3 separate regions of the Homo sapiens genome follow, and regions 1 and 3 are each linked to region 2. The links come from fine-mapping of genetic effects on gene expression. A gene starts in region 2. Each other region holds a variant in brackets. All regions are shown on one strand. Distances are between the middles of the regions. Region 1 overlaps SRPK1 (SRSF protein kinase 1). Region 2 holds the start of SLC26A8 (solute carrier family 26 member 8). Region 3 overlaps MAPK14 (mitogen-activated protein kinase 14).

Region 1 (10,579 bases), 150 kb after region 2:
TTGTATTTGTTTTTCTTATGTAGTCTTTCTCTTCCAAGGATCAGCCTGAGATGTAAACGAAAGGTCTTTGCTCAGTCTGCATCTTTTCCTGGGCATGCGCAGTCACTTTCTGATTTTCCCTCTATATGCAGTTGCTTTTGAATGTCCTAGTCTATTTATTTATTTAGAGACAAGAGTCTCTGTCACACAGGCTAGAGTGCAGTGGCACAGTCTCAGCTCAGTGCAACCTCCGCCTCCTGGGTTTAAGTGATTCTCCTGCCTCAGCCTCCCATGTAGCTGGGATTACAGGTGCATGCCACCACACCTGGCTAATTTTCGTAATTTTAATAGAGACAGCGTTTCACCATGTTTGCCAGGCTGGTCTCGAACTCCTGGCCTCAAGTGATCTGCCCACTTTGGCCTCCCAAAGTGCTGGGATTACAGGTGTGAGCTACTGTGCCTGGCCGTAAATGTCCTAGTCTTAATGTCTGGCTCCCAAAGGGGAAAAAGAAAGAAATTGAAGGAGAGGAAATAGGGCACTGGCCCTTTAAATCTTTGCAAGATCACTTGAGCCAGAAGAGGGGCTTAAAACAATGGAGGGGGGTTACAAAAATGGCCACCCGACTCTGATACTTGGGGCAGGATCCTTTTTGCCCACCATGGCTCCAACAAACTGTGTGCAGGGCTGCTTGCTATAGGATTAGGGGATAGGTGGTTGCCACTGTGCTAAGAGCTGAAATTGACCAACATTTACAATAATTATTATCCAAGCCTCTTCTTCGGGAAGTTGTGAGCCCTCAGTAGACTCCAGAGTTTCTTAAGAATCACATTAGACAGATTCTGCCAATGCATTGGTTGTCTAGGTGGGGAAACAGATTTCTGGTGGCTTCTTACTCCACCATCTTCTCAGACTCTTCTCTAGTTTACGATTCTTACTTGAGTCAGGATCTGTATGACATTTTGGCAGTTTATTACCTGGCATCAAGATATTGCAGGCTCACCTTGTGAATTTCCTGTCTTAAATCTAGAATCAGTTTTTCTCTAAGAAGCCCTAATTCCATTCAGTGGGAAATGACATCCAGAATCTAAGCACTTAGGGGTATGCTTTGCTACTGGGTGAATCTTTACCTTTATGATTTGTTGATTCATTGCAAAAAGCACATACTTTCACCTCCTTCCTGTCTTCCCTTTTTGGAGGTCACTATTTGAGTTGCCCCCAAAGCTTGCTTTTGTGGATGTGTGGATTTGTTTGTTTGGATTATTTTTCCAAATTGTTTTATTTTGGACTAATTCTGTTGCTGTGCCATCAAATTCACTAATCTTTTTATTCTACAAAATCTAATCTGCCATTTGTTCCATCCAGTGTGTTTTGATCTCTCACATTGCACTTTTTGTCTCTGGAAGTTCATTTTCAAGTCTTTTTTTTTTTTTTGAGACGGAGTCAGTGGTGCAGGAGTGCAGTGGAGTGCAGTGGTGCAGTGGTTGCTCACTGCAACCTCCGCCTCCTGGGTTCAAGTGATTCTCCTGCCTTAGCCTCCTAAGTAGCTGGGACTACAGGCACGCGCCACCATGCCTGGCTAGTTTTTTTGTATTTTTAGTAGAGATGGAGTTTCACCATATTGGTCAGGCTGGTCTCAAACTCCTGACCTCGTGATCCGCCCACCTCGGCCTCCCAAAGTGCTGGGATTACAGCCATGAGCCACTGCACCCGGCCCATTTTCAGTCTTCTAAAAAATACTTTTCATGTCTCTACTTAATTTTTTGAACATATGGAATACAACTATAATAACCATTTATTGTCCTTGTCTAATTCTAACATCTGTGATGGTTCTAAGTCAGTTTCACATGATCGATTATTTTAATTTTGGATATGTTTTACTACCTGGTAATCACATTGTAAGTTTTACCTTGTTGGCTGCTGGATGTTTTGTATTTCTATAAATCTTCTTGAGCCTTGTTCTGGGATGGTGTGATGTTACTTGGAAAGTGTTTTATCCTTTTAGATTTTACTTTTATGATTTGTTAGATGGATCCAAAGCATTGCTCAGTCCAGATCTAATCATTCCCTCTACTGAGGCAAGACCTTCCCAAATATATCCTACCCAATACCCTGTGACTAAATTTTTCTAGTCTCTTTGCTGGGAACAGGCACTGTTCCAAGCCCTATGCGAATGCTGGGCATTGTTCTCTATAATCCTTTAAGATGTTTTTTCTTCTCTGCCTCTGCTAGTTTCCTCACACACATGTGCTTTGCTGAATCCTTGAAGGGGCGGGCCCCCTCTGCAAATCTCCAAATTTCTCTCTTTCTGCAGCTCTCCCCTCTCTCTGGTACCTTTTTCAGTGAATTATAGCTGCCTTGGTCTCTCCAGACTCTCAGCTCCCATTGATTCAACTTGTGGAGTCTACCTGGAAAGCCTCAAGGCAATAAGATGGGGCAATCCCAGGGTTCAGCTCTTGTTTCCTTTTTTCAGGGATCACTGTACTTGTTGTCTGATGTCCAGAGTCTTCTGTTGTTTTTGTATTTGGTCTGTTTGAGTATTGTTTTTTCAATAAGATAAGTCCAGTGCCTGTTACTCCATCTTGGCTAAAGCAGAAAACTTGATAGGTGCTGGGGTTTTTTGTTTGTTGTTTTTGTGACGGGGTGTCACTGTGTCACTCAGGCTGGAGTGCCGTGGCATGATCTCTGCTCACTGCAGCCTTGACCTCCTGGGCTCAGGTGATCCTCTCACCTCAGCCTCCTAAGTAGCTGGGACTACAGGCACACGCCACCACACTTGGCTAATTTTTGGATTTTTCTTGTAGAGACAGGGTTTCACCTTGTTGCCCAGGCTGGTCTTCTTGAACTCCTGGGCTCAAGGGATCTATCTGTCTCGGCCTCCCAAAGTGCTAGGATTACAGGCATGAGCCACCATGCCCGACCTGTCATAGGTTTTATATTTAAGAATTTGCCAAGCAGTTTTCCAAAGTGCTTGTACCATTTTAGACTTCTACTAGCATAATACAAGAGTTCTAATTGTTCCACAACCTCACCTACATTTGGTGATGTTTAGTTTTTTTATTTTAGTCATTTATTAGTTTGAGATGCTATCTTACTGTAATTTTGATCTGTGTTTGTGGTTGTCATGTGCTTTTAATCTTACGTAGTTTGGAACATTTATGACATTGCCTTTTTTTTTTTTTTTTTTTTTTAATTTAAGAATCCAGGCTAGTTGTTTTATGCCACCTTAGTTTGGATTTGTTTGATTGTTTCCTCATGATTAAATTCAGGTTAACCGTGTTTGTCAAGCATAGTACATGGATTATTGCATTAGAATATGCATTCGAATGCATATTAGTATATTGCATTAGAAGGCACATGGTGTGAATTTGTGCTTATCATTGGTGGTAGTAAGTTTGATCACTTGGTTAAGGCAGTGCCTTCCAGATTTCCCAGTTGTAAAGGTACTTTGTTCTTTTTGTAATTAATAAGCAATCTGTGGAATGATATTTTGACACTGTGACAATCCTTTTTCCCGACAGTCTTTCACATAGTTGTTTTAGTATTCACTGATTCTTACCTGAATCAGTAATAGTATACTATAGTGATTGTAAAAATGGTGATTTTCTATTTCTGTAATCCCTTATGTATTTATTATTTGGCTTTCTTCTCTAAAGAAGATGTTTCTCTTCCTCCTGCCTCCACACTTACTTTCAGATCAGTGTGGACTTGTTCTGTTTTTAATTCATATATTAACTCATAATTTTATCCTTTATAGTGGTCTGGCCGGGCGCAGTGGCTCACGCTTGTAATCCCAGCACTTTGGGAGGCCAAGGCAGGTAGATTATGAGGTCAGGAGTTCAAGACCAGCCTGGCCAATATGGTGAAA[C/A]CCCATCTGTACTAAAAATACAAAAATTAGCCCAGCGTGGTGGTACACACCTGTAGTGCCGAGAGGCAGAGGTTGCAGTGAGCTGAGATAGTGCCACTGCACTCCAGCCTGGGCAACAGAGCCAAGACTCTGTCTCAAAAAAAAAAAAAAAAAAGAAGTCTCCATGTTGGCTGGTGACATCCTTTTCAAGATGGTTCCTGTTTCTTCCTGACAGGTTCTTTTATTTGTTAGAACAGCAAGGTGTTCCAAGTTTACCCTGTTATTTTTCCTACCTTGGATTTGGCCATTTTTCCAAGGAGCTCAGGCTTTCCTTTAATGGAGAATGTTAAAGTCTGAGCACTAGACCATTACTATATATGTATGTCTTAACTTGCATGTAGAAGCCAGTGGGGGTGGAAGACATCAAGATACTACTAAAATCTCTGTAGTGCCCTGCACAATTTTAGACTCAGAGTATTCCTGCTGTGTGGTGTCATCAGGTTGTTCATACATAAGGACAACACATGGTGGCACTGGAATCAAGATTAGTTTTGTAAAATACAGAGCATTAAGCAAGTTTCCTATTTAAAAAAAAATGTTGGCATTTACGTTTTTGAGGTTTAAGTCTTTCTTGTACATTCATCTCTTCTATAGTTAAGGAATAATTTGTTTTTCCTTGCTTTGAAGCTGTGAGAGTGGGAATTTTTACCCTGGACACCAATTTTGATATTAGGGAAGAAACTAATTTACCTGAAGCTAATCAACAGCTTGAGGCTTGAGCCTACTGCTTTCTTTCACTATTTGCATATGTAGGTTTCACTTTTTCTTTTACCATTGAGTATTTTAATGTACATAATAATATTGATGAAGCCAGCCGCCCACAATTTAATGTTTCATGAATGCTTTCATTGACTATAGCATTAGACTTTGAAATTTTAGAATATTAACAGCTACATATTTATTCATTCAAGCTCTGTAACTTTTTATACTGAAAGAAAATAATACATAACATTTAATAGGGTGGAATTCACAGCTTGTCTTGCCGTGTTCTTCTTTTGTGCCGTTTTTTCCCTCCTTAATGAATTCCTAGATATCTGCATGGTATTTGAAGTTTTGGGGCATCATCTGCTCAAGTGGATCATCAAATCCAATTATCAGGGGCTTCCACTGCCTTGTGTCAAAAAAATTATTCAGCAAGTATGTATCTTGAATCAGCAAGTATCTTAGTCTTGACTATGTAGTGATTTTTTAATATTCTTGAAGTGTCAGGACTTTATTTTTTCCAATAGAATTTTTGTTTTAAGGCCGGGTGTGGTGGCTCATTCCTGTAATCCCAGCACTTTGGGAGGCCGAGGCGGGCAGATCACGAGGTCAGGAGATCAAGACCATCCTGGCTAACATGGTGAAACCTCCTCTCTACTCAAAATACAAAAAGTTAGCCGGGTGTCTTGGCAGGCACCTGTAGTCCCAAGCTACTCGGGAGGCTGAGGCAGGAGAATGGCGTGAACCCAGGAGGCGGAGCTTGCGGTGAGCCGAGATCACACCACTGCACTCCAGCCTGGGCGACAGAGCGAGACTCCGTCTCAAAAAAAAAAAAGAATTTTTGTTTTAAAATTCTTTGTTTTAAAAAGTAAGTTATTGGCTGGGCGCGGTGGCTCACGCCTGTAATCCCAGCACTTTGGGAGGCCGAGGCGGGCAGATCACCTGAGGTCAGGAGCTCGAGACCAGCCTGGCCAACAGTGCGAAACCCCGTCTCTACTAAAAATACAAAAATTAGCCGGGTGTGGTGGTAAGCGCCTATAATCCCAGCTACTCGGCAGGCTGAGGCAGGAGAATCGCTTGAACCCGGGAGGCGGAGGTTGCAGTGAGCTGAGATCGCGCCACCGCGCTCCAGCCTGGGCGACAGAGCAAGACTCCATCTCAAAAAAAAAAAAAAAGTTAATTGCTAAAATTAAATATTTCATTCAACCTTTAGAATTTATTGTGCTTATTCTCTTTTTAAATGTTTTAGCATAACCATTTTCCCCCAGGTTTGCCTCCTATAATAATTAGAAAGGGAAGCTGAGGTTCCTGACTTGGGAACATTGGAGCCCTTATCCAGAAGTTCTGGTTGCAAATAGTAATTTTACATGAATAGATAATTGCTATGTCAGATTATTGCCATCTCTTTATACAGCATGATTCATAGGCATTTTCTAATTTTCTAAAGAGCCTTCAATATACAGTATAGATTTTACCATCAGGAAAATATTAATACTTCAAGGTGCAAAAATTTGTTTGGATTATATGTCCTGGAAAGAGCTCCAAACTGGGCAGCAAGAGACCTCAATTCTTCCTCAGTGAGGAAATTTGAATTAAAGATATCTAAATGTCTGTCAGCACCTACATTACAACACTTAGAGGGTGTGTGTGTGTTGAAGTTTATTCTCAGTCTTTGCATTGTACATAGTTGAAGAATATCTCCAAATAGAATCAGCTTTGTAAAACATTGAAGAATTTTTTATTGTAAATAATTTCTTGCCTTTTTCATAGTTTAATCTTTCTGAGAAAGTTTATTTGTGCTTTTTTAAAAGGTGCTTTTATTCTCTATAGAAAACGCTATCATATCTTTTTTTTTTTTTTAATGTCATGTTATAATCTCTTACTTCTCCAGAAAGCCTGTATTTTGTGTTTGCAAGTCTGCCACTCTATTTCCATTCAGGTGTTACAGGGTCTTGATTATTTACATACCAAGTGCCGTATCATCCACACTGACATTAAACCAGAGAACATCTTATTGTCAGTGAATGAGCAGTACATTCGGAGGCTGGCTGCAGAAGCAACAGAATGGCAGCGATCTGGAGCTCCTCCGCCTTCCGGATCTGCAGGTGTATTTTCTTTTAGGGACTTCGCTATCATTAGAAGTTAAAAAGAAATTTCTATTTTTATTCTGTTACCAGGGAATTAAACACCACTCAATCCATTTCAACAATAACATATTTAAGAAACATTATCAGCTTCCAAGAGACATTCTCACTGTTACTTCCATAGGGGAAGGAGAAAACTAGATATTGTGTCTTTGTGTTGTATGTTATAAAAGCTGGTGTGTATTGTTTAAAAATATTTTTTCTTATGAGTTGATGATTTTTGAAGTGTTTACCTCTAACTGTGATCACACATGCTCATTTATAGGACTGGTAGTCTGTAGAGGGACAAGATAACATTGCTATTAATAGTTTAGGTTTAAACACTGGAGTAGACAGACTTGGTTTGAATTTGGGCTTCATCCTAGACTGAGAAACCTTAGCTGAGTTATTTTACTTTATTTTCCCTCAACTGCGAATTATTGGGATTAAATGGTAAAGCAGTTAGTAGTGTGCCACACAATATTATATACCAAATAAATTGCGGGACCAGGCACAGTGGCTCATGCCTGTAACGCAACACTTTGGGAGGTTGAGGTGGGTGGATGATTTGGGCCCAGAAGTTTGAGACCAGCCTAGGCAACACAGTAAGACCCTGTCTCTACAAAAATTAAAAAAATTAGCCAGGCATAGTGATGCGTGCCTGTAGTCCATTTACTCAGGAGGCTGGGGCAGGATGATTGCTTGAGCCTAGGAAGTCAAGGCTGCCACGAGTTGTGATAGTACCACTGCACTCGAGCATAGGCAACAAAGTGAGACCCTGTCTAAGACATAAAATTAAATAAATAAATAAAGGCTGCTTTATGATTTTTTTTCTTTTGAGATACAGATTTTAGTTTTAGTAGTGTGTCATTTTTTAGGAACTTGCTTGATCCTCAAGTTGAGTTATTAGTTATACACTTCTTTAAAAAGGAAGACTAAAGAAGGGGGAAATGGGGAGTTGGTTGTTAAATGGATGTAGTTTCTGTTTTACAAGATGAAAACATTCTACAGATCCTGTTATACAACAGTGTGAATAGTGTTAAAACCACTGAATGTACACTTATCTAGAGTATAAATTTTTATTATGTGTTTTTTGTTAACCACAGTTATTATACTAATATTTTAAAAAGAGGAAGACTGAAGATCCTACCTTCCAGCTAAGCTACACTGTTATCCATGACATGCTGTAGAGCAAATTACTATAGCTCTTGATGTCACCTAGACTCCCCTTTTAAAACTGACAGATTCTGGGTAGCATTTGAGGTGAAGAGGTTGTTGCTTGTCCCATTCTATTTTAAGCAGTGCATGGGAATGGAAAATAGGTGATTTTTAGCAACTTTAGTTTACCTGGGGAGGAAGAATTTTATTTATCCCTTTTTTTTAAGTTTGGCAATTTCTATTCATTATTTTCTTTAAAAATGGTAATAATATAGCTTCTACTTAAGTCATTTAAAAACAATAGTTTTCTCTGCAATGTAGACTACATAAGAAAGACTTTTCATTCTGGTAGAGTGTTTTATCTGAGCCTTAGTTTATATTGCCTGATGAATGCCAGAATTCTTACTTGGTTTTCTTTTCTTTTCAGTCAGTACTGCTCCCCAGCCTAAACCAGTAAGTATAAGGTGTTTTTATATTTAATTTTGATCTATGGACTATGGGCATGGGTTCTTCTGTTGTGGATGGTAACAGTTTGTTTCAAGTTTGAGAACCAAAAGGAAAAAAAATTCCTGCGCTTCTATAATTTTCTCCAGTAAATTCCCATGCACCTTCATCACATTTGTACTGGTGAGGCCTCTAAAAAATTCGAGTTTGTCTGAATGTAAACCAACCCCACGGACTGCTCAGAAGACCACACTTTGTTATTTATTCTGTTTTTATTTGGGTTTATAAGAGTATCCCGCATCTTTTAATTTAATGAAAGACTTAAGTGCTATGTTAGGGAAAGATTTGTGAAATTTAATTAGGAAGTAATTAAAGTTAACAACTATCTCCAACTGGGGGTAATTAATTAGCCACCTGAAGGCTTTATCTGTTTGTAATCTCCGCCCAGGCTGACAAAATGTCAAAGAATAAGAAGAAGAAATTGAAGAAGAAGCAGAAGCGCCAGGCAGAATTACTAGAGAAGCGAATGCAGGAAATTGAGGAAATGGAGAAAGAGTCGGGCCCTGGGCAAAAAAGACCAAACAAGCAAGAAGAATCAGAGAGTCCTGTTGAAAGACCCTTGAAAGAGAACCCACCTAATAAAATGACCCAAGAAAAACTTGGTATAAATAGAACATCACGAAAATTACTGTACAACACACTTTAACGTTAATTTATCATTGCTATATAATACAGTGGTTTCATACATACAACACATCTCTGGGGGTATCTTTATAAGAATATGGATCTTGTCATAAATGTTAGGCAGGTAATATTTAAATGTAATTTGTAACTTTTCTCAGGAAATGGAACATAGATTTCATTTAACAATTGGGTAAAAGTAAGATCTTGGCCCTTCCGGAAATAGGTTTTAGATGTTTAGTCATGTTTTTATGTCACTCAGTATAAGTTCTAGAAAATGTTTTAATCTTGTGAGAAATGTTTCTGTTCTTTCACTCACACACATATGCATATATCTTTTTTTGTTCGTTTGTTCCTTAGAAGAGTCAAGTACCATTGGCCAGGATCAAACGCTTATGGAACGTGATACAGAGGGTGGTGCAGCAGAAATTAATTGCAATGGAGTGATTGAAGTCATTAATTATACTCAGAACAGTAATAATGAAACATTGAGACATAAAGAGGATCTACATAATGCTAATGACTGTGATGTCCAAAATTTGAATCAGGAATCTAGTTTCCTAAGCTCCCAAAATGGAGACAGCAGCACATCTCAAGAAACAGACTCTTGTACACCTATAACATCTGAGGTGTCAGACACCATGGTGTGCCAGTCTTCCTCAACTGTAGGTCAGTCATTCAGTGAACAACACATTAGCCAACTTCAAGAAAGCATTCGGGCAGAGATACCCTGTGAAGATGAACAAGAGCAAGAACATAACGGACCACTGGACAACAAAGGTACCTATGCAGCTATACTTCCTCAACACTCCTTCCCTGCACAACACATTCACAGATTTCTAGACTAAAAGTATGATTGTTTTTGTAACTATAGCTTTACAACAGGTGTGTCTAAGTTACGTTTAAATTGTAATCTGTAGCTAACTTTATCCATCATGTACTGAGTACACAGCACTTCATTTGTTGCTGTGAGGGCAGAGGTTTTTAATTCTGGAAACTCAAGGCGTTGCTGTGCTCTTTTTGTCTCAGAAAATGTAAGTTGTCACTTGGGTATTGCTGACTGTATTACTCTTACCTTGGAGAGCTTTATTACTCATTGAGTATTTCTCTGTTCATTGAACAGTCTTATTGATGATGCCTGTTGTCTGTAGGAAAATCCACGGCTGGAAATTTTCTTGTTAATCCCCTTGAGCCAAAAAATGCAGAAAAGCTCAAGGTGAAGATTGCTGACCTTGGAAATGCTTGTTGGGTGGTAAGTTAAACTTGCCTTAATGGTGTTTTGAAGTGACTGGGAGGATGAATGAGAATTTGGACTTAGTTATGCAAAACATCCATAATTCTGTACCCAGATTGATACAACACTTCAGTGAATATTTTTTTACATTTAAAAAAACCTTTTACTATGGAAAAGTTTAAATATACTTACGAAAGTAGAATGGTAATCGTGATCATGAAAAGTCCTTCTGTTACCCCACCCCACTCCAGATACCCATCACCCAGATTCAGTAATGTCAACTCCTGGCCAATCTTGTTTTTAATATATATATCATTATTAACTTTCAGACACTCAGTGCCTATGTTCATACT
Region 2 (10,727 bases):
TGAGAAAATTGTTTTGTCGAACAATACTTAAATGAGCAGTGGTATGTGACTAATCAGTGAGCCTGCCAGTTTCTCAAGCTGCAGTGTTCTTGCAGGCACTACCACCGCCGCCCCTCCACGGAAAGGAAATACGCTTTCAACCGAATCGGAAACACACCACTCAAGCTGGCACAGTGCTCACCGAGATAAAGTCGGTATTTTAAGCTCTATGGATCGCTGTTAATTCAAGTGCGAATTCAAAAAGAACGCTTTTCAAGATGGGATTTCGACAGAGTTTTGAAAAAAAAAAAAAAAAAAAAAGGCCCGGAGAGAGCTCCCTTCCTGGTCAGTTTTGTTCAGATGACCGCAGTCTTCGGGTTGGGCTGTGCCCTTCTGCTTCTCCCGGCAGTTCCCCGAGCTTGTCTGCTCAGAGGACCCAGGGTCCGGAGCCCCAGCGTGGGCGCATCACGGGAGAGGGTCCTTCTGCTCCAGGTAGGCAGGGAGACCCCCAAGGAAGCGGCCCTTCCCCCGGTGCCTGTTGCCGAGCAGCAACCCTCCGAGAGGGGAAGGCGCAGGGTGCTAGCCAGAACCGAGCTCCAGCACCACCACCTACCTCTCGCAGCGGACCTGAGTGCTGCACACGGTGGACCGCATACCTGCGTGAGTGCAGGGCGAGGGGTGCTGGAGGTGCAGAACGGGCAGAGCTCGAAGGGGCAGCAATGCCCTCCCCCGAGGAAAATTCCTGCCACTTGACGCAACGCTGAGCAGTGGAGCAGGCCTGGCCCTCGGGCGCGAGGGGCCACCCTGCCCACAGCGGCCCCAGGCCCAGCGACACTCACCACACAGAGCCATAGGCGCCAGAGCCCACTGGAGACAGGTTCTGGTAACGCTCGGGCACCTCCCAGATTGTCTTGTTCAGCTCCTGCCGGTAGAACGTGGGCCTCTCCTGAGACATTTTCCAGCGGCAGCCGCCGGGCAAGAAGGTGGCCCTGTGGGGCCCCCGCCTGCACCCGCACCCTCTCCCCGGCCCTTGCTGCCCGCCCAGCCGGGCGGGGACCTTGCGCTGGTCGCCCGCGCAGGTGCGGCTGCCGCGACCCCGCAGACTCCCGCGCGCGCGGCTGCTGTCAGCCGCAGCGGCTGGATGTGCCCCTGCGACTGGGGCAAGCCCCGCTAAGGGCAGGGACGCGCTCCGGCGCTCAAGACTGCGCCCGCCGCGATCTCCCTGCACCTTCGCCCCTACAAGGCCGACTCCGGGCTGCGTCGCAGTACTCCCGTTCCAGCTGCTGCGCCCGCTAAGGCTCCAGTGGTCGCGGTTCCAAGAGCCAGCAAACGGGAGCCTCCCGCAGTACTCTCGCGAGAACAGCTCCCGGGACTCTCCGAGAGCCGAGATTTTACCCAATATGGAACCTCTCCGCGGGCGGGGCTTCGTGAGAGAAGAGGATGGGAGGAGCAGTTCTCGCGAGAAGAGAACAATAACTGGAGACCAAAGGCAGAAACTCCCAGGGACTGTCTCCTTAAGGGCGCGAAGGCGGACCGGGGAAGGAAGAGAGAAGCTGGCAGCACACGCCTCGCGCGCCTCACCGTGGCCGGCGGGGCAAATACCTGGCTCTGTGGTGGAAAACGACACTGACAAATAGCGTGTCGGGGAAAGAGTCAAAAGATCTTTAACTGCGAGTAGTTACCAGCAGCAGAGCACCTGCTCACCTGAACCCCCAAATTCCAAAAAACACTTGCATAAAAAAGAGACAAGTGGCCGGGCGTGGTGGCTCACGCCTGTAATCCCAGCACTTTGGGAGGCCGAGGCGGGCGGATCACCTGAGGTCGGGAGTTCGAGACCAGCCTGACCAACATGGAGAAACCCCGTCTCTACTAAAAATGCAAAATTAACCGGGCGTAGTGGCGCGCACCTGGAGTCTTAGCTATTCGGGAGGCTGAGGCAGGAGAATCGCTTGAACCCGGGAGGCGGAGTTGCGGTGAGCCGAGATCGTGCCATTACACTCCAGCCTGGGCAACAAGAGCGAAACTCCGTCTCAAAAGAAAGAAAGAAAGAAAGAGACAGGTTCCGGCCAGAAGGCTGTTGCATTCCCATCTGCTCAAGGACATATGGGTTACTCTTTGAGATGCTGACGAAATATGTCCCAAAGGCAAATGTTAACCCTGCATCAAAGCTGAGGCTTTCCAGGGGCTGGGCTCAGTGGCTCACACCTGTTATCCCAGCACTTTGGGAGGCCGAGGCGGGTGGATCACGAGGTCAAGCGATAGAGACCATCCTGGCCAACATGGTGAAACCTCGTCTCTACTAAAAAAAATACAAAAATTAGCTGGGCGTGGTGGCACGACCCTGTAGTCCCAGCTTCTCGGGAGGCTGAGGCAGGAGAATTGCATGAATCCAGGAGGCGGAGGTTGCAGTGAGCTAAAATCGCGCCACTGCACTCCAGCCTGGCGTCAGAGGGAGACTCCGTCTCAAAAACAAAAACAAAAACAAAAACAAACCGAAGCTTTACATTAAAACTCTCCCAGTTAAACTTACATGCAGAAAAATCACCCTGGGAGTTTAAGATGCAAGTTCCCAGAACTCACAGGGAGTCTAATTGGGTAGGTCAGAGGAGGTCTTGATCAAGAGCATGCATTTTTATAATACATCTTAGGTGATTCTGATTCAGGAAAGTCTCTGATATCTCCCTTTGAGAAGCATTTAAAAAACCGTTACACTGAAGATTTGAAACTGACTCCTATCCTGAAGAGCCATCAGTGAAGAGGATTTTAAGCATTTAACTCAGGCCTCTTCGAGTAAGGAGAATAGGGCAGGAGTCTCATCGAATTTAGGCAAGTCAACTGACCTTTCCTGAACCTCAGTTCCAGCTTCTACGAGAGAATTCCTGCCCTGCATTCCCGACTAACAGAGTCATTTGTAAAAACCAAACAAGATAAATGTGAATGGGCAAGGCATTCTAACCCCATGCCTACATCCATTATCAACCTATGCCTATGCTAAAGCTTGTTACAATGAGCAGAAGAATCAGATCCTGTCTCATTCTCTTAGTTTCTTGTATTAGAAATAACTAGATCCAAGCCAGGACATTTCTCAACATTTCCCGTGATTATTCTATTTTGTGTCATACACACCTTGGAGGGCTCAGACTTTGCATATCTTGTCCCAACATCTAGCACAATGTCTAGAACATAAAACATGTGTCATAAATATTTGTTGAAAAAATTATGAACAGTGACCATGATTTCAAGTGGTACAGTATCCTCAGTCCTCTTCAAGGAAAGCAATATAAAACCAAAAAACAGATAGTCATGGGTGATTCATGGAAAGCTGTTTTGGATCCAATGTAGCTTAGGCTGGAATTCTCTTATCTACAAAAACATGTTGCTTGAGAATGTTCCAAACTAGGGAGGATAGGAAGCTTTCTAAGAAGTAATGGAGGGTGAAGGGGAAGTAAGAGCAAAAACATGATTGTGAAGACATGAGGGATGGGGTTGGGGGGATCAAGGGAATGAGGGAATGGTTACAAAGGGTGAGGAGGAAGCTTGGAAGTAGGAATCCTCAGAAATGCACATTTTTATCCTACAAATTGGGATGATGAGGTGAGGGTGAATGAAAGGGTAAAGATAAAGTAAGCAGTATATTCATACACTCATTCAACCAATGTGTATTAAATGCCTACTAGGTGTCAAACACTTGCAGTTTAAAAGTGATTAAAAACTACAGTTGCTGCCGGTGTGGAGCTTACAATCAATGGGAGGGCAATCATTCAACAAAAATTAATTGAATACTTCCTATGTCCACCACACTGCTGTAGGCACTGATAATAAAACAGTTAATGAAAGGGATAAAAGTCCTTGCCCTCATAGGGGTAAGATGATTTACAAAAAGGAATACATAAAGTGCATTATAAGGTAGACATTAACACAGTCATCAAACAAACAAGTGTAAAACTGTAACTGGGCCAAGCAGGAATACAAGGTGGAGTGAGAGACAGTGCTAGGGACAGGGATAGGGTGGGAGGAGGGTAAAGGGAGTGAGTGCAGATGGCATGTCTGCATCCAGAGCAGATCTGGGCAGGAGGGTGTCATTCAGTGGGGAGAGCCGGGTTTGTGGGGCAGACAGCCTATGGTTGGAGACCTGGGTGACCCTCCTAGCCTCCATTTCTTTTTACCTCTTCTGACCTGAGGAAGGCTTAAGTCTTCCGGAGACGTTAGTGAATTACCGTCTGTGCAGTACACATGTGACACATGTGCACTGCTGTATGTTCAGGACACGAGGCCTGGCACCAAATAGGCCCTCGATCAAGAATAGCAAAACCTCGGAGAGAGAAGGAGCCTTGGTATACAGGTTTACCAAATACCAAGGGGATCCCACGACTCAGGTATGAGGAGGGCGACCCAGGTACCACTTTCCTGGCTCCCTAGCCCAGCTGCTCATGCTCCTCTTCCTCGTCCCCTCCCCCACTCTCATCTCCTCAGCCCGCCCGGAACGCCCGCGGGCTAGGCCACAACGGCTCGGGAACCGCCGCCGGTATCCGCGTCCGCAGCGCCGCCAGCCAGGCGAGAGCCGTGTGGGATCCCAGCGCCCGCACTCCCGCCCCCGCCAAGGAGCCAGGTGAGCCGCTGCTGGGAGACGCCTGGGCGCCGGGGGCTGCAGGTCCCAGGGCGGGGGCTGCGTCCGTCACCGGCAGGTACCCAGGTATGCCGCAGAGCCAGGCACGCCGTGGGCACTCAGTCAGTATCTGTGGAATGAATGAATGATGGTCGTCCCTGGGAGCTTATCTCTGAGGTATTGTCTCTACTTTCAAAGGCCGTGTGGATGGCAATGACAAGAGACAACAGTGTGTGCGTTTTGCAAGCTGCATCCTTTCAAATTCTCCTGTCTATATTGTCAAAAGCCCCAGAACTGACGTGCTACCTGCACCCCACCGCCTACCCCATCCATTTCCTCCTGAGGCCTGACTGCCCGGCCGTTCCTCTTCCTTTCAGACCCCACTGCTTTTGTTAATTTTGTTCCCTGTGACTGAATCCCCACCCCCACCTCCTTGCCCCTTTCTTTTCATGTCAAATGCCGTTGATGTGTCAGGGGCCCCGTGAAGCCTTCTCCAGCACCCCCACCCCAATAATGAGCATCTCTCCAACACACCATGTTACTCTATCCACATTGCATGGAAGGTGGTTGTCCTATGTTTATGTGTCCAATGGTCATCCGCTTAAGGACTGTCATCTTACTAGTCATCCCTAGCCACTAGCCAGAGTGACTAAAGGATCTAAAGGCCAGGCTCTTTGCTTATACCTTTTCTGTATTCCCAATACATTCTCCATAAAAACCTAGGTAGTAACAGGTGTAGGGTTGTTTCTGATGGAATTACAAATGCTTATTTTGAAAATTCGGAAGTAAATTTTGCCTTTCCGTGATTATAGAAAACATAAGAAAGTTAACAATATCAGGGGGAAGATATTCCTGCAACTAAACTAGCTTTCAAGATTTCATATTATTTGGGTCAATAGCTAAAAAATTGGATTGTATTTAAACTTTTTATTCTTGACTTTTTTTTTTTTTTTTTTTTTTGAGACAGAGTCTTGCTCTGTCGCCCAGGCTGGAATGCAGTGGTTTGATCTCGGTTCACTGCAACCTCTGCCTCCTAGGTTCAAGCGATTCTCCTGCCTCACCCTCCTGAGTAGCCAGGACTACAGGCACGCCATCATGCTCGGCTAATTTTTGTATTTTTATTAGAGACGGGGTTTCACCATGTTGGCCAGGCTGGTCTTGAACTCCTGACCTCAGCTGATCCAACCGCCTTGGCCTTCCAAAGTGCTGGGATTACAGGCATGAGCCACTGAGCCATGTCTGGCCTATTCTTTACTTTTAAAGCACTCTGAACACAGATAATGTAAATAATTAGATAAATGGATGGATGGATGGATGGATGGATGGATGGATGGATGGATGGATAAGGGTACTATGGAGGGTGAAAGAGCTAGGCCAAAAGTGCTTGTATTTTAACAGGGCCCCCAAATTTAGCACTGAAAGGCTCATGAAAGATAATCCACTATATTTATAGTGGTAGTCATACTTTAATTTTTATCAGAATCACCTGGACAGCTTCTTTGCTTTTTTTCTACCTAGCAAGACCTACTGAATCAGAATCTCTGGGGGCCCAGCAGTCTGGACAGCTTCTTAAAACAGACTGATGGCCCCCAGAGTTTCTGATTCAGTAGGTCTTGCTAAGTGGGGCCTACTCAACAGTAGGAGTTTCTGGTCATTGCATCTTCTTGGGAAGTGTCCTGCTAGTACATGAAAATGAGCCACTAGGATTTCTATGAAATCAAGAAAGACATAATGGAGCTGGAGAAATTCCAAAGAAAATTACTTAAAAAAAATAATAAGGAAACCATGCGTTTACCCTTGCTGCTGTTAGCCAGACATTTGATGGAGTTCCTTAAAGACAACTTTCCACCTGCTCCTCCTAGCCATCCTCACTGTGGTCGTAGGAGTTTATGACTTGATAACATCTCCTAGACTAATATTAATGGTCTCCAATTGGCTGTTTTGCCTCAGTCTCTCCTATCTCCACTGTCCAACAACTTTTTGTGATGATGGAAATTTTTTATATCTGCATATCTGCACTGTCCAGTAAGGTAACCACTAGCCATATGTGGCTGTTGAGCACTTGAAATCTAGCTAGTATAATTGAGGATCTGAATTTTTTATTTTAAGTTTAAATAGCCACATGTAGCCAGTGGCTACCATACTGGACAACTCAGCTCTAGAACATAACACTGGCACATTTCATCTTCCCAAAATGCATCTCTGTGCGTATTACTACTTCTGCTGAAAGACTTTAAATAGGCCAGGCGCAGTGGCTCACGCCTGTAATCCCAGCAATTTGGGAGGCCGAGGCGGGAGGATCACCTGAGGTAGGGAATTCAAGACCAGCCTGGCCAACATGGCGAAACCCTGTCTCCACCAAAAATACAAAAATTAGCCAGATGTGGTGGCACATGCCTGTAATCCCAGCTACTCAGGAGGCAAGGCAGGAGAATCGCTTGAACCTGGGAGGTGGAGGTTGCAGTGAGCTAAGATCGCGCCACTGAACTCCAGCCTGGGTGACAGAGCTGTACTCCATCTCCAAAAAAATAAAAAATAGGCCGGGCGCGGTGGCTCACGCGTGTAATCCCAGCACTTTGGGAGGCCGAGGGAGGCAGATCACGAGGTCAGGAGATCAAGACCATCCTGGCTAACACCGTGAAACCCTGTGAGCTGAGATCACGCCACTGCACTCCAGCCTGGGCGACAGAGCGAGACTCTATATCAAAAAATAAAATAAAATAATATACATATATATTTATATGTATACGTAAACATATGTAAAGTAATTGACAACATTTAAAAGCCAGAAGATTCCACATAAAAATCTGGCATTATGGCTTCTCCTGGAAAAGATCAGATCTAAGCCATTCCGGGCCCCACATTGACCGATGGCAAAAATGGCTAGAGCTAAGCAGCTTCTGCTGCCTTTGCCAGCCCCACTGTTCCCACCACTCCTTGACGGTCATATTTTGCCTATTTTACACCAATCCTCCTTTAATGTCACTTTCAGAACAAAATGCTGGGTTCTAGACTCTCGATGTGACCCAGGATATCAGTTTTGTCATTAGCAGACTAATTAGGCTTGTTTAGGTTGCTGGGAACAAAGAGACTACTCATGGAAGTACATTGGACAATTATACGGGGAAAGTAAGGAAGATTGGGTCTGTATTCCTATGGGTGGGGAAAGAAAGGTGGGGGGGGATTCCTTACATTTCAATATACAGTTCTACCTTTTTTTCTTTTTGTAAGAGACATGAGGCACTAATTATCTTAAGTAATATATTGTAAAATACCTCTCCCATCCTCTTCTGTATTCCCCAGTCACCTCACTGGTTTAGAGAATTTGTGATCTTTAGTTCATGGTTGTTATACAGCATATTACTTCTACCCAATGCTTTGAGGGTAAAAATACAATATATAATTATGGCCCAATTACTTACATTTTCTAAAATCTTGGTTTTACACCTGTAAAATGAAAGAAATAGTAGTACTGGTATTGTTGTGGAAATTTAATGACATAACTCGTGAAGAAATCTAGTGCAATGCATGGCATAGGATAAATGCCCAATAAATGTTGGCAATGATGATGATGATGATTCTTCTGAAGGAAAACAAAGTTGCTGACACATTAAACTTATCTGCAGCATCACCCATCATCTATATAATTGTGTAATCTATATAATTTGAGGGTTTACCAATATATTTTATAGGTATGTGGTTTATACATATGCTTTTTTACATTTATGTGGAAGAATTTTAGAGTTTATGCTTTTTTTATTGTTCAAAAACATAGATTATTAAGACTGGTTATACTTTCTCCCAGAGATGGATCCCTATCCATCCTCATTTACTCTATCTTTTCAATCTTTTAAAAAAGCAGGATAATATAGATTTTTTTTTCTTTTAGAGACAGGGTCTCGCTCTGACACCCAGGCTGGAGTACAGTGGTGCGATCCCAGCTCACTGCAACCTCCACCTGCTGGGCTCAGGTGATCCTCCCACCTCAGCCTCCTGAGCAGCTAGGACTACATGCCATGCCATCATGCCCAGCTAATTTTGTTTCTATTTTTAGTAGAGACAGGGTTTCACCATGTTGCCTAGTCTAGTCTTGAACTTCTATAGCTTTTTCTGCTACACCATGAGGCCACTAACTGTATACTTGGCAGTCATTCAAGAAACACTTGTTAAGGGCCTGCTAAGTTGCTAAGTGAAAGCCATTCTTTTGGGTCCTGGGGCTGCAACTGTGAATAGTCACAGTCCTGCTTCCTGGTCTTACATTTTATGGGGGAAACAGACAATGGACAAACAGACAAATAATGAATCAGGTGCTGGCAAGTGCCGTGAAGAAAAGTAAAAGGTAAAGGGATAATGATGTCTGCTATTTTAGAGGAGTTACAAGACTTGTATTGAGCACTTAACCCTTCATCTGGACTTCTTCATATATGCTGGATAGTGAGCATTTTCAGTGAAAATTGTTGATTAATACTGTCCACCTCTTGATCATTTTCCTACAACATAACACAACTGAATATAAAGAAAACTAGGCCTCCCAGCAGGACACCTGGGTTCTAGTCCTGGCTCTAATAAGTATCAAACAGCAAAGACTGTTTAAACTTCTGGGTTTTGTTGTCTCCATTTGAAAAATGAAAAGAATACACATAAAATTATACAACTTTGAGAAAGAGTTTTTTACAACTGAAAGATGCTATGCAAGTGTAAAACATTATTATATAGGAATTTTATTTCCTTAAAAATATGCCGAGGATCTGGATTACTGAAAATGCTCTTTTATTTGCTCTCTTTCCACTCATCCAGGAATGGCACAACTAGAGAGGAGCGCCATCTCTGGCTTCAGCTCTAAGTCCAGGCGAAACTCATTCGCATATGATGTTAAGCGTGAAGTATACAATGAGGAGACCTTTCAACAGGAACACAAAAGGAAGGCCTCCTCTTCTGGGAACATGAACATCAACATCACCACCTTCAGACACCACGTCCAGTGCCGGTGCGTGTGTCCAATCTTTCACCTGCTGCCGAGCCGGGCAGGACTGAAACCTAACCTGACTCCTTTGGGGTCCGTTTCTCTTTCTTGTCTGAGTTCCTGTAATCAGAATCATGCAGTTTATTGTGCAATTTTTCTTCAGTCATTTTTGTGGTTTGTCTTGCAGTACCTTTTCGATTGTAAACTTCCTGGGCATAAAGATCTTGGATGTCCCTATGGTACCTAAGGAGGATATTTCATAATTCCATTGTTCAATCAACCATGACTACCAGACTCCCGACCAAAAATAAGATAGCCAGCAAGACGCAATGGCTCACGCCCGTAATCCCAGCACTTCAGGAGGCCAAGGCAGGCAGATCACTTGAGTCCAGGAATTTGAGACCAACCTGGGCAACATGGTGAAACCCCGTCTCTACTAAAAATACAAAAATTAGCTGGGCGTGGTGGCACGTGCTGTAATTCCAGCTGCTCAAGAGGCTGAGGCATGAGAATTGCTTGAACCTGGGAGGCGGAGGTTGTAGTGGGTCGAGATTGTGCCACTACACTCTAGCCTGGGCAACAGAGCAAGTCTCTGTCTCAAAAAAAATAAATAAATAAGATAGCCATGGTGGACTGATTAATGGTAGGGGAATGAGATTCTTCTAGTCTCATATCCAACAGTGCCCACATGGTGGTACTCATGGTCACTAAGGTAGAATCTACCACCACCACCTCTGATACCCGCTGTGACTAGCTAGGTCCTACAGTTCAGGGGCTCTTACCCTGTTTTTGTGCTTTGAACCTTCTAGCAGTCTGATAAAGTTAATCAACATCTTTCAGAATAATTTTTTAAATGTTTTTTATTGTGGTGAAATATGTATAACATAAAATTGGCTATTTTGACCATTTTTAAATATACAATTCAGTGGCATGATTGACATTCGCAATGTTGTGAAACCATCACCGCTATTTCCAAAACTTTTTCATCACCTCAAACAGAAATTCTGTTAAGCAATAATTCCCTATTTCCCCACCCCTCAGCCCAAGTAACCTCTCTTCTGCTTTCTGTCTCTATGAATTTGCCTATTCTAGCTATTTCACTTAAGTAGAATCATACAATATGTTTGTCTTTTTGTGTCTGACTTCTTTCACTTAGCATAATGTTTTCAAGATTCATCC
Region 3 (11,127 bases), 32 kb before region 2:
AGCCTGTGCTAACACTCTGCTCAGTGTTCTGCATTCAGTAAGTAGTCAACAAGTAGTAATGAGATTTGCTTCCAAGAGGTAAACTCAGTTATTGTTTATAAAAAACAGTATCCAGCTAGAGTTAAATAGAAAGAACGGATTCCTGCTCAACAGCCATAGTATTTATTGAATAAATGAATGAATGAATGGTTGAATGAATGAATGAAACCTTAGTTCAAAGGTAGATTTGTAGTTGCTGGGTCCTTACATGGATGAAGGAGCCAAACAAAGGCACCACTATCAGTAACACTTAACCTTCTAAATAGACACTGGCCTTAATTAAGGTCTTTTCACATAGGAAAAATAGGTTCTTAATCCGGTTCCAGAATGCCCAATTAGGCCAAAATACAGCATTTTGCACTTTGCACAAGTCAGCAAATCATTTCCTTTGTTATATAAATCCATCCTTAGTATACCTAAAATTTTGGGATACAGCTCAGATCTAACTCAAATGTTTTCCAAAGTAATTCACAAACACATTACTTCAGCATTTCTTCTACATTTAGGAAAACTATTTTTAAAAACCATCATTCTGTAACATTCCCTTTTCCAACTATAGCATACAGTAGGGCTCAACAAACTGTAATATACATGCCCCTGAGTAACATCCAGTAATCTCTGGAAGCCTCCATATTGTTGTATCAAGCAGGGCTGCGAGAAGAACAATTTTTCTTAGTTATTGGCTATTTTTTTCCTTTGTTTCTTAAACTTTCATTAGCAGGATCAAGGTTAATGTAGCCAAGGAGATCTTGTAGGTGGACCAAATTCTCCTCTCTTAACTTCTACTCTTCTACTCTCAGCCATACACTGTTCCAACTAAATTCAAATGGTGGAGAAATGTTTTTGCCACCTTTCCTCCTTCCCTTTCCATTTCATCTTCTTTATTTCTTTCTCCCTTTCCTTAGACAGAACATAGAAGTTCAAACATATCCCCTTTGTGTTCTGTGGGGAAGGAGTAAACGGTGTTTGCAATCAGCCCAGGATAAGAATGGGAGAAACTGAAACCAGGATAAGGGTGAGGAGAAACTGGTTAGGTTCAGCCCTGGGGTCAATGGGGGAATGGAGGTTAAGGAAGAGAAGTCACGATCTTCAGTTCTGTTTTGGCTTTCATAATAGTAACACTCTCCATTTAGGAATGCCAAAATTTCAATGTGACCAAAAGTATAACTGTGTTTAAGGTTTTTTTCTCTTTCATGGTATAGTGTATATGTGAACTGGGGGCAGGGAGAGCTGTGTCAACTCAGATACTAGAAAAGCTACTATAGTAGAGAGTTCACACATACATGGGAACACTTGCTGGAATCTGTCTTATGGCCCACCAATGTGCAACCTGGGCATGTGAAGGCACTAATGACATACGTGGCAACCCTTGCCAATGGGGTCAGGAGCCAGTGTATTAATGATCCCCATCTGAGGTGCATTACGTACAGCTTCTTAGATCTTGGCAGTTTTCAGCCCAATTGTCCATAGTGGTGACCAACTCAACATATACTCATAGAAGCTTTCTCTCCTTTCCTGTTTCATTTTCCCTAGCCCCCCACTACTGGTTCCTGAGAATCCCAGGCTCTGCTTTCTAGGGGTATCCCAGGCTAAAACAACAGAGGTGGTTACAAAGCTGAGAGAAGAAGCCTTTCTCAACAGGTAGAGTCTGCCCCTTATCCCAGTATAGAAATCTAATACTTCAAGGATCAGCATGTAGTTCTAGTATCATCTCCCACATGCATGGGCGATAAAAGAGGAGGGAGTCTATATGGCTGGGGATCCGTTACATTTCTTGAAGAGCACCTTTAAAAGTTGGGATCGGCCAGGCATGGTAGCATGTGCCTGTAGTTCCAGCTCCTCAGGAGGCTGAGGTGGGAGGATCACTACAGCCCAGGAGCTTGAGTCCAGCCTGGGCAATATCACAAGACCCCGTGTCTTTTAAAACAAAAACAACAACAACAACAACAACAACAAAACCAAACCTGGGATAAACACTTTGAAAAGAAAATCCATAGTCAAAACTCTCTCCACTCCTTTCTCCATGGAACTTTTGTAAGAATTCAAGACTGACTCTTCAATGGGGTACAATGTGCCTGAAATGATGTAAATACTAACACGCACCACCCATAACATACATCTTCTGGTATCCATCCCTACACCCAAAAAGAGGTGCATGATAGGAATAAAGAATTTTTTGAAGTCTATATGTTGCTAAATGGTTCAGGAATAGAAATGGGCTATTAGTCTTCATTCTGTAGACCAGGAAGGCAAATGCAAAAAATTTACTCACACATCATTGAATTCCTCCAGAGACCTTGCAGGTGTAAAAACGTCCAACAGACCAATCACCTGTAAGAAAATATAAAAATTAAAAAGTAAATAAATATTAAACTCAGTATAGTACCCATCAGGTCTTAATCTTCTTTTTTTTTAAAGAGTCAGGGTCTAGGCCGGGAGCAGTGGCTCACGCCTGTAATCCCAACACTTTGGGAGGCCGAGGCGGGCGGATCACCTGAAGTCAGGAGTTCGAGACCAGCCTGGCCAACATGGTAAAACCCTGTCTCTACTAAAAATACAAACATTAGCCAGGTGTGGTGGCGGGCGCCTGTAATCCCAGCTACTCGGGAGGCTGAGGCAGGAGAACTGATTGAACCTGGGAAGCGGAGGTTGCAGTGACCCGAGATTGCGCCACTGCACTCCAGCCTGGGAGAGTGCAGGTGCAGAGTGAGACTCTGTCTCAAAAAAAAAAAAAAAAGAGTCAGGATCTCACTCTTGACACACAAGCTAGAGTACAGTGACACCATCACAGTTCACTGCAGCTCAAGCAATCCTGTCTCAGCCTCCCAAGTAGCTGGGACTATAAGCACGTGCCACCACCATGCCTAGCTAATTTTTCTTTTTTTGTACAGATGTGTCTCACTAGATTGCCCAGGCTGGTCTTGACCTTCTGGCCTCAAGCGATCCTCCCACTTCAGCATCCCAAAGTGCTGGCATTACAGCAGTGAGCCACCACGGCCAGCCACGTCTCAATCATTTTAATAGGAACTAATTCAAAACCAGCTACCTCAGTTCCATAACATCACATCATATACTTAATAACTCCAACTAATTTTCTACCCAAATTATGCTTTTGTTTTCTACTTGTTAACATCAATTCTCATATTAACCCACTTTACCATTAAAAATCTTCATCTCTTTAGAATTTATTCATATGTAGTCAGTAGTTTATCAGAAGGCAAAAAGATTTAGGGTCCTTGCCTTACGTATGTACTAATGGTCTAATGAATTAATCCAACAGGTGAAAAAGGTCACACATCCATGGTTGTTACCGTAATATTGTGTTTTTTAAAAATGTATTCCACGAAAAATTTCCATATTAACTGTATATGCTTCAAAACTGACATTTTTAAAGTCTCAAAATATTCTCAGTATATTCTTGGTATTATTCTCACAAAGTCTTAATGTATAGGGTATTTAAATCAGACAATTTAAAAATGAAAAAAAAAGTCTATTTTTACACAGGGATAAAGCAAAGAGCTACTTAATACTCAATAACCCATGGTCTTTGAGCAGTTTTTCTGATCAGGAATTTATACTGATTTATCCACATACAGCACCCTCCAACCCCTACCTCCCATCTATTTTCCTTAAAACCCAGGCCATTCATTTCTACAAAGTTAGGCATTGACAAGGCAAATAAGAAATATATAATTCATTTGTAATACGCCCAGCCATATTTGAGAGTATCTGGTTATGAAGCAAGACTGTGGCCTCACTAGCACACTGTTCTAAACTGCCAACTTAAACACAAAGCTCTAGAAGTAAGATATGTTAACACTCAAAACATTATCATGAAAAAGATCTTCTAATTAGGATGTTACTCCACTCATCCAAATATCAGACTTTTTTTTTTTTCTTTGAGACAGAGTTTCGCTCCTGTTGCCCAGGCTGGAGTGCATGGCACAATCTCAGCTCACTGCAACCTCTGCCTCCTGGGTATAAGTGATTCTCCTGCCTCAGCCTCCCGAGTAGCTGGGATAACAGGCATGCACCACCACGCCCGACTCCAAATGTCACTTTTTAAAAGCAACTTTAATTTTACAGTCTGAACCTGAAAAGGAGGTGGTGGGACACATACTTGGAATTCAAGAATAGGTTTCAAGTCCTTGAAAATTGTTCCAAAGGAAATAGAATCACTTTCAGATCTTACCCAGACAACAGTACATAAGAAAACCAAAATTACCCATAATTATACCACCCATTATAACTATCATTAACATTTTGAGATATATTTCCTTTGATTTTCTGATGTACATAAATTAAATTGGGGTTACACCATGCATAGTTTTATATCCTGCCTTTTTACTTAATATTTAAATATTTGTATACAGCATATCTATCATTTGTGTATACCATAACTTAACCAATTTCCTATCTCTAGACATTTAAGGAATACTGCAAGAAAAATATATGTATTTTGCACATCTCATATTTTCTTCCAGGAAATAAATTTCAAGAAACAGAATTACAGAATCAAAGGACACCAATATATTTAAGGATCTTAATATTGTCAAATGGTCCTCCATAGAGGTAAGGCCAACTTACATGCCTCCCAATAGAGTACCTGTGACCTCATTCACAATAGTGCTTTAAATTTAAGTCAAATCCATTTCCTTTTACCTTCTCCATCTAAACCATAATCGTTTCCCTTGAGTTTGGTATACTCCTGGCTTAAGACCTCTGGTCTTTTAATCACTCTCCCTTATACCCACTTCTACTTAAGGTAACTGAGGTCTAGAAGCTAACTTTATTCACCGTTCCAATATTTTCTAATCAATGATTCTTGTTATCTGAGATGCCCATCTCCTCAAAACAATAGAAAAGTTTAAAACTATTTACATTGTTTTACAGTGTTTCCATTGTGATTGTGAAAATCCTCCTATGGAAATAAAACTAAATCATTAGAGATCTGATTTACACATGCAAGAGTTACCTCAAAAGACAAAA[G/A]TCAAAACTATTTTCAAATAAAAACTCCAATTTCAAACTGAAAACACAACAGACATTTTGGAACCAAGCAGCTGTAAGTTTGAACCCCAGTATCAGTTTGTGATTTCTTGGGTCCAAGAGCTTATAATTTCTTCATTCCAATAACGCTGGCACTTGGAATGGAGCCTGGCATTCAGCAGGAGTTCAATGAATGGCTGTTATGTAAATAATAATTGGCAAATACATTTGGTATCTTCTCTGAGTCCCATTTTCCTCATATGAAAAACATGAGGACATCATTGCTTATTTTCACAGTACTGACAGCAAGACTGAGCAGACAATGTATCTGAAGGTGCCTAGTACAAAAGGCTGACCCACTGTGGATCATCAAAATAAGTGGTGACCACAGCCCACACAGTTGAATAGACAATTACAAAATACAATATACCTAAGCAAACTATCTGAAGCAGCTACTTCCATTAACAGAATATGAGACATAAAGCTCAACTATTCAAATGATTAAAAACCATGACTGCAAGAAGAAAAATAAAGTAACCTGAAAAAAAATAGAGAAAAGCCAACTAGTAAATACCCTACCAAATTTTAATTTCCTAAAAAGGGCAATATTTACAATATTTAATGTGTTTAACATAAGCACACCGAAAATAACAATTTTGAGATTAAAACTACCCATGCTAAATCAAAGTACTTAAATTTTTGATGGGTTTTTACAAAATATCCCTCACTCCATTAATCATACTTATGAATATTAATCATAAGGAAAATACTGTAAAACAAAAGCTTATCAGCATTAAAATAGATCTGGAAAATATTTTAGGAATCTATTCATTTCTCATTTCTTTTTTTTTTTTTTAATATAATAATAGAGACTGGTTTTTGCCATGTTGCCCAGGCTGGTCTCAAACTTCTGGGTTCAAGCAATCCACCCACCTTGGCCTCCCAAAGTGCTAGGATTACAGGCATGAGCCACTGCGCCCAGCCATTTCTCATTTCTTAAATGGAAATTCCCTTCTAAATCAAGTCATATTTTAGTCTATTTCCTTAACTCCTTCTGCTGTTACATGACTTCAGTCACCTCAAAGTAACCCAGGAATCAAATTTTTAGAAAAGACATTCATAATACAAATAAGCAGCAAATATCTCTAATGATTATCCCATCATGGTCCAAAGCCTGGCAAATATTAAGTCGTATTTTTATTAAATTAGCACACATCCAAAAAAAAATACTTTAACTCAGTATCCAGAGACAATATTTAGCATATTTAACAAAAGCACACCAAAACAATCTCTTGGTCTACAATGGTAAGGTTAAATCTAAGGCTCCCAAATAAAATTTACAAAACAATTTCCTTGATCATTTTTAAATTCTAAAATGTACAGATCTCTAGGCCCATATATGGGCCATCTCTGTAGTGTCTGCCCAGACAGCAAAGGATGCAGCTGGCAGGCTGCCTCCCTTTAATCTTTCCTTAGAGCAGGTGTTAACGAGATCAAGGTCAGAAGTTCAATCAGGAATGGTCCAACTAACTTTGTTCAGAGAGAAACTCTCACAGTCACAGAGGACATCCCCTAGCTTCAGTCACTCACCTAATAAATGTTTATCTATTATTCATGATCACTAACAGAAGAGACAATTCAAGATGAACTACCGATTGTGGGTCAGAGGCATTTTTGTGTAAAAGATCACATGTGCCCTCTGGCACCTGAAAATTGTATTTGTTACCAACACCTAAAATGTTCACAAGTTTTAAGCGCCTGTTGCTGCTGCCTGTGGGAGGTTTGGCCGCTATAAAAATTGGATGGTGACCCAAAACAGTAATTTTTTAAAAAAGAAGAGGAGGGTAAACGAGATGAATTTCTCTGAAAACCCTCAATTAAACTTACCGGAAGTTTTGGTTCTTTATTGGGTAAAACTACTTTGACATTATAAGCACCTAACAAATGTTTTCAAAATAGGCTAAAATGCAGGAATTTTTCTACATTGAGTCAAGTCTTTTGGCTTCAAACATTTGCCAATGGAATAGAGAACTATGAGACATTCAGCCATGTGCCTTATTTTGTTTAAATAACAAATCACTGATATCTAGGTGACCACCAACTGTTAGAACTTAAACATCTTTATATAAAAAAAAGACTGCTAGTAAGCAAGCCACTTATAAAACAATGTATAGAAATTAAAATCCTATTTTTCTAATACCATGATCCCTAAACATTGGCTTAACATATTTATGAAGAAAAGCAAAACAATCAGTGTAGCACTGATAATCTCCTAAACCAGATGTTCTTAAATTAGCATAGCCACATCAATAGGATCCTAGTGGCTCCCAAAGGTGCTCTGGGGTTCCATAAATGTTTGGCTTGCATTTCACTTTCAAAATATCCTTTATACTTGCAAAGCTGTGACACTGTCTCTGTCACATATAATAATGTGTAATGAAAAACAGCATACACACTTAAATGTGTTAAAAATCAAACGCAAACACATCCCTTAAAGCTGCCAGGCCACTTTGATTTTATGCAGACCTAGGAATAAAGTTTCTGCTGCCAGCTTTTTCCGCATATCTCAACTTCTTGTAAACATGTCACTGATTAGGAAGGCTGCAGCTTCACACTGAACATTCTTAAAACTCTGGTTTGCACATAGCTACTTAAGTAAAATTATACTCAGGAATAGAAGTTGTCTGTAGAAATAGGATTTCCTCAATAGCATACAATCAAAATAAAATGTGAAAATAAAAAGCAGCAGCTGTGATTATAATGGCATCCATAATCCAATTACAAATTTAAGTCTTAATGTTCTCAATTTAGAAGAAATTTGCACTAATGAAACAAATGTACGCTAATGAAGAGTCACTTATCTGTGACTTTTTTCTCGCTATGAAGAAGTTAAATTACTAAAACAGTCTAAATAGTCAAATAATAAATTCACAGATTTTGAATTTTCTTCCACAAGGTAACAAGCAGTACAGCCAGAGGACTTTGAAATCTCTATGGCCATTGTTTCCACAATGCTACAAACTTCACAGTACCCTTCATATAGCAGTCACAGAAATTCATAACTTGATTTTGAAATTCAGTAAAATAAGTGTCTTCAGTCAACTGTCTTTTTACTTTCAGTTAGTATTCCAATTATATCCACTTATTTATCGTATTAGAATTTGTAAGCATCTTTGCAGAATGGCAACTGAATCAACAAATTGGTAAAAAAGAAAAAGTTATATTTAACTTAAACAATGCCTCTGACATATTTATTAAAATACGTGAATCTGGAAAAAAAGAAAAATTATTAACAAATATATAAAATAATAGCCATCTCTGATAGGACTTTCAGTGAGCCTAAGGCACTCTTTCTCAGATTTTTCCACTTAAAAATATTAAGGCTATATTATGAGAATATGGGAGTCTGTGGCTATTTTGTCTTTTAATAGCCACAGACTCCCATATTCTCATAATATAGCCTTAGGAAAACCAGGCAAAGAATACATAACTTCTTTTTAATATTTTCTCTTAAAAATTATTGTGAATTTTGTGTTGTATTTCATAACATATCCTTTAATTTTAAAATTTTAAAGAGTTCTTTCTCCTCTAAAAATCTTTGAGTAAAACTAAAACTCCAGGAAGATGCATCACTTTCATTCCAAGTCTTTGACCTGACATAACCAAGTGGCCACTAACACCCCAGGACAAGGAGCAGGGACCAACGTTTGATGCACTCCAGCGTATTTCCATCTGCAGTAATTAAAACATTTTTCCCCAGTCTATTCAAGATCAAAATGTATTCTTCCTTGAATGAATAACTTACATTTTCATGTTTCATATGTTTAAGTAACCGCAGTTCTCTGTAGGTTCTTTTCGCATGAATGATGGACTGAAATGGTCTGGAGAGCTTCTTCACTGCCACACGTAACCCCGTTTTTGTGTCAAAAGCAGCACTAAGGAGAAAAAAGGGAAAAAACCCACCATTAAAAAGCTGTTCTAAATATTATTTTGGGGTATTTATAAGGCTATTTCCAAATTAAAGGGTCTATAACAAAATACCAAAAAAAAGCATAAAGATAAAAAGCAAAATGACCTATTATCCCATTATCCAAATAAAGCTTCTGTTATTATTTTTGGTGTTTTCTCCTTGTCTTTTCTATGTATCTAAATCAGAAGTCAGCAAATTTTTTTCAATGAAGGGCCAGATAGTAATATTTTCAACTTTGTAAGTAAGACCTCTGTCACAACTACTCAACTCTGTGGTTGTATGAGGAAAGCAGCCAGAAAATAAGTTTTAAAATGGGTGTGGCTGTGTTCTAATAAAATTTACAAAAACTGGCAGCTGCCTGATCTAGATGAGCCAACAGATTAATAAACAGAGTTGAATTCTGTCTTCCCTGCCTAGGCCTCACTGTCGTCACCTTGCCACATCTGCTGCCTGCTCAGAGTCGAGGCCCAGGAAACCATGTTTTCAGGACAATAAATTGCCACAAATATTTCTTGAGCACCTACAAAGTACTTGGCACCTTCAGGGAATGGGGGAAGAGCAGAACAGAATAATAAAATAATTTCAAGTAGTGATGAAAATACTATGACTAAATAAAAGGGTAATGGGATAAAGAGTGACAGAAAGCCAGTGGAGTTATACCACTTTAGCTAGGATGGCTGAGGAATGACATCTGAGCTGAGAAGGAAACAATATAATGATTAAATTCCCTATATAAATATATAAGAAAAAGAGCTTCAAGCAGAAGAAATAATAATAATATTAATGTTTATAGAGTCTTTACCCACACATACAAGAAATTGTTCTAAGCCCTTTACATTTATTTGTCTCAATTCAGCTTTTGTATTTCCCCGAATCCCCTATGAAATAAGTACTATTATCATTCTCCCACTTACAAGTAAGAAACTGAAGCAGAGAGAAGTTAGGTAACTTGACCACGGTCACAAAGCTTAAAAGCGGCAGAGCAGGGAGTCTGGATCCAGAGCTTATGCTACTGACCACTTGACTCTGCTATCTCTCAGAAGAGCAAGTGCAAACAAACGAAAAAAGAAACAGAGGTAGGAAACGTATGGCATGCTGGAGTGAGTGACAGAAAGACAGAAAGGCTGTGTGGGTAGAGCACAGGGAGCAAGGGGAGAGTGGGAAGGGATGACGTAAGAGATGCAGGCAGCAGCTAGATCATGGAGGACATCTATAGCAAAAATGCGATGTGTATTTTAATTATTTTTAGAAATCGTCGCCAGGCACAGTGGCTCATGCCTGTAATCCAGCACCTTGGGAGGCCGAGGCGGGAGGATCACGAGGTCAGGAGCTCGAGACCAGTCTGACCAAGATGGTGAAACCCCATCTCTACTAAAAATACAAAATTAGGCGCAGTGGCAGGTGCCTGTAATCCCAGCTACTCAGGAGGCTGAGGCAGGAGAATCACTTGATCCCAGGAGGCGGAGGTTGCAGTGAGCTGAGATTGCACCATCGCACTCCAGCCTGGCAATAAGAGTGAAACTCGGTCTCAAAAAAAAAAAAAAATAGTAATAACAGAAATTGTCTGGGCCAGTTCCATTATGCCTCATCCTCCAGTTTGTCTCAGTCTCTAACATGTATCCAAGACTTTCTGGTCATCTGTTATCACCAAACTCTCTGCCTGCCAAACTTGCTTTTACAACTCTGTACCTACTCCAGTGCCCTTCCTTTCACTCCCAAACTTTTATGGCATACCCTCAATCTTCAAATCCCAATTTGTGATAAACTCCTATAAATCTTCAACCTCTTTTCTGAACCTCCCCTCCATCTCTGAAACTAGGCCATTTCTAGAAGACACTGCTTCTCTTATAGCCCTGCCATTAGAAAGCATTCTCTAATAGCCCAGATACCTCCTGGCTAGCAGGTGCGTAGGAGTCTTCCTTGGCAGCCGTTACCACTTCAGGACCATTACTTTCCGTTTGTTCTATAAAATACCTCCTGCTCACAACCCTGATAAACTATCCCTCTCTGCTGCAGGTATCCACTGACCTGAAATTTTCCATCATTCATTGAAAAGTTAGTTTCTATCCAGAAGATCTCTCTACACTCTCAACTTCTGTCATCATTCTTGGCAACTTCAACATCCAGGTGAA

What was found.
Region 1: its variant is fine-mapped to the expression of SLC26A8 in whole blood (TOPMed, PIP 0.97).
Region 3: its variant is fine-mapped to the expression of SLC26A8 in whole blood (INTERVAL, PIP above 0.99).

The regions. Positions count from the first base shown.
Region 1 is chr6:35,868,675-35,879,253 of GRCh38, reverse strand. SRPK1 (SRSF protein kinase 1) reads left to right here. Exons shown (of 16, transcript NM_003137.5): 7 at 4,915-5,021; 8 at 6,526-6,691; 9 at 8,295-8,320; 10 at 8,760-8,973; 11 at 9,353-9,772; 12 at 10,144-10,244. Among named protein-coding and RNA genes, the nearest start is that of SRPK1, 47 kb to the left of the region's middle. The variant C/A (reference allele first, on the strand shown) is at 3,846.
Region 2 is chr6:36,018,365-36,029,091 of GRCh38, reverse strand. SLC26A8 (solute carrier family 26 member 8) reads left to right here and starts at 4,451. Exons shown (of 20, transcript NM_052961.4): 1 at 4,451-4,588; 2 at 9,383-9,572. The coding sequence starts at 9,385. MAPK14 (mitogen-activated protein kinase 14) reads right to left here and starts at 1,284. Exons shown (of 12, transcript NM_139012.3): 1 at 819-1,284. The coding sequence starts at 934. RefSeq lists a silencer at 944-1,043 and enhancers at 1,234-1,673, 4,005-4,504, 4,505-5,006.
Region 3 is chr6:36,050,532-36,061,658 of GRCh38, reverse strand. It overlaps MAPK14 (mitogen-activated protein kinase 14), which reads right to left. Exons shown (of 12, transcript NM_139012.3): 2 at 8,831-8,960; 3 at 2,312-2,370. Among named protein-coding and RNA genes, the nearest start is that of MAPK14, 28 kb to the right of the region's middle. The variant G/A (reference allele first, on the strand shown) is at 5,029.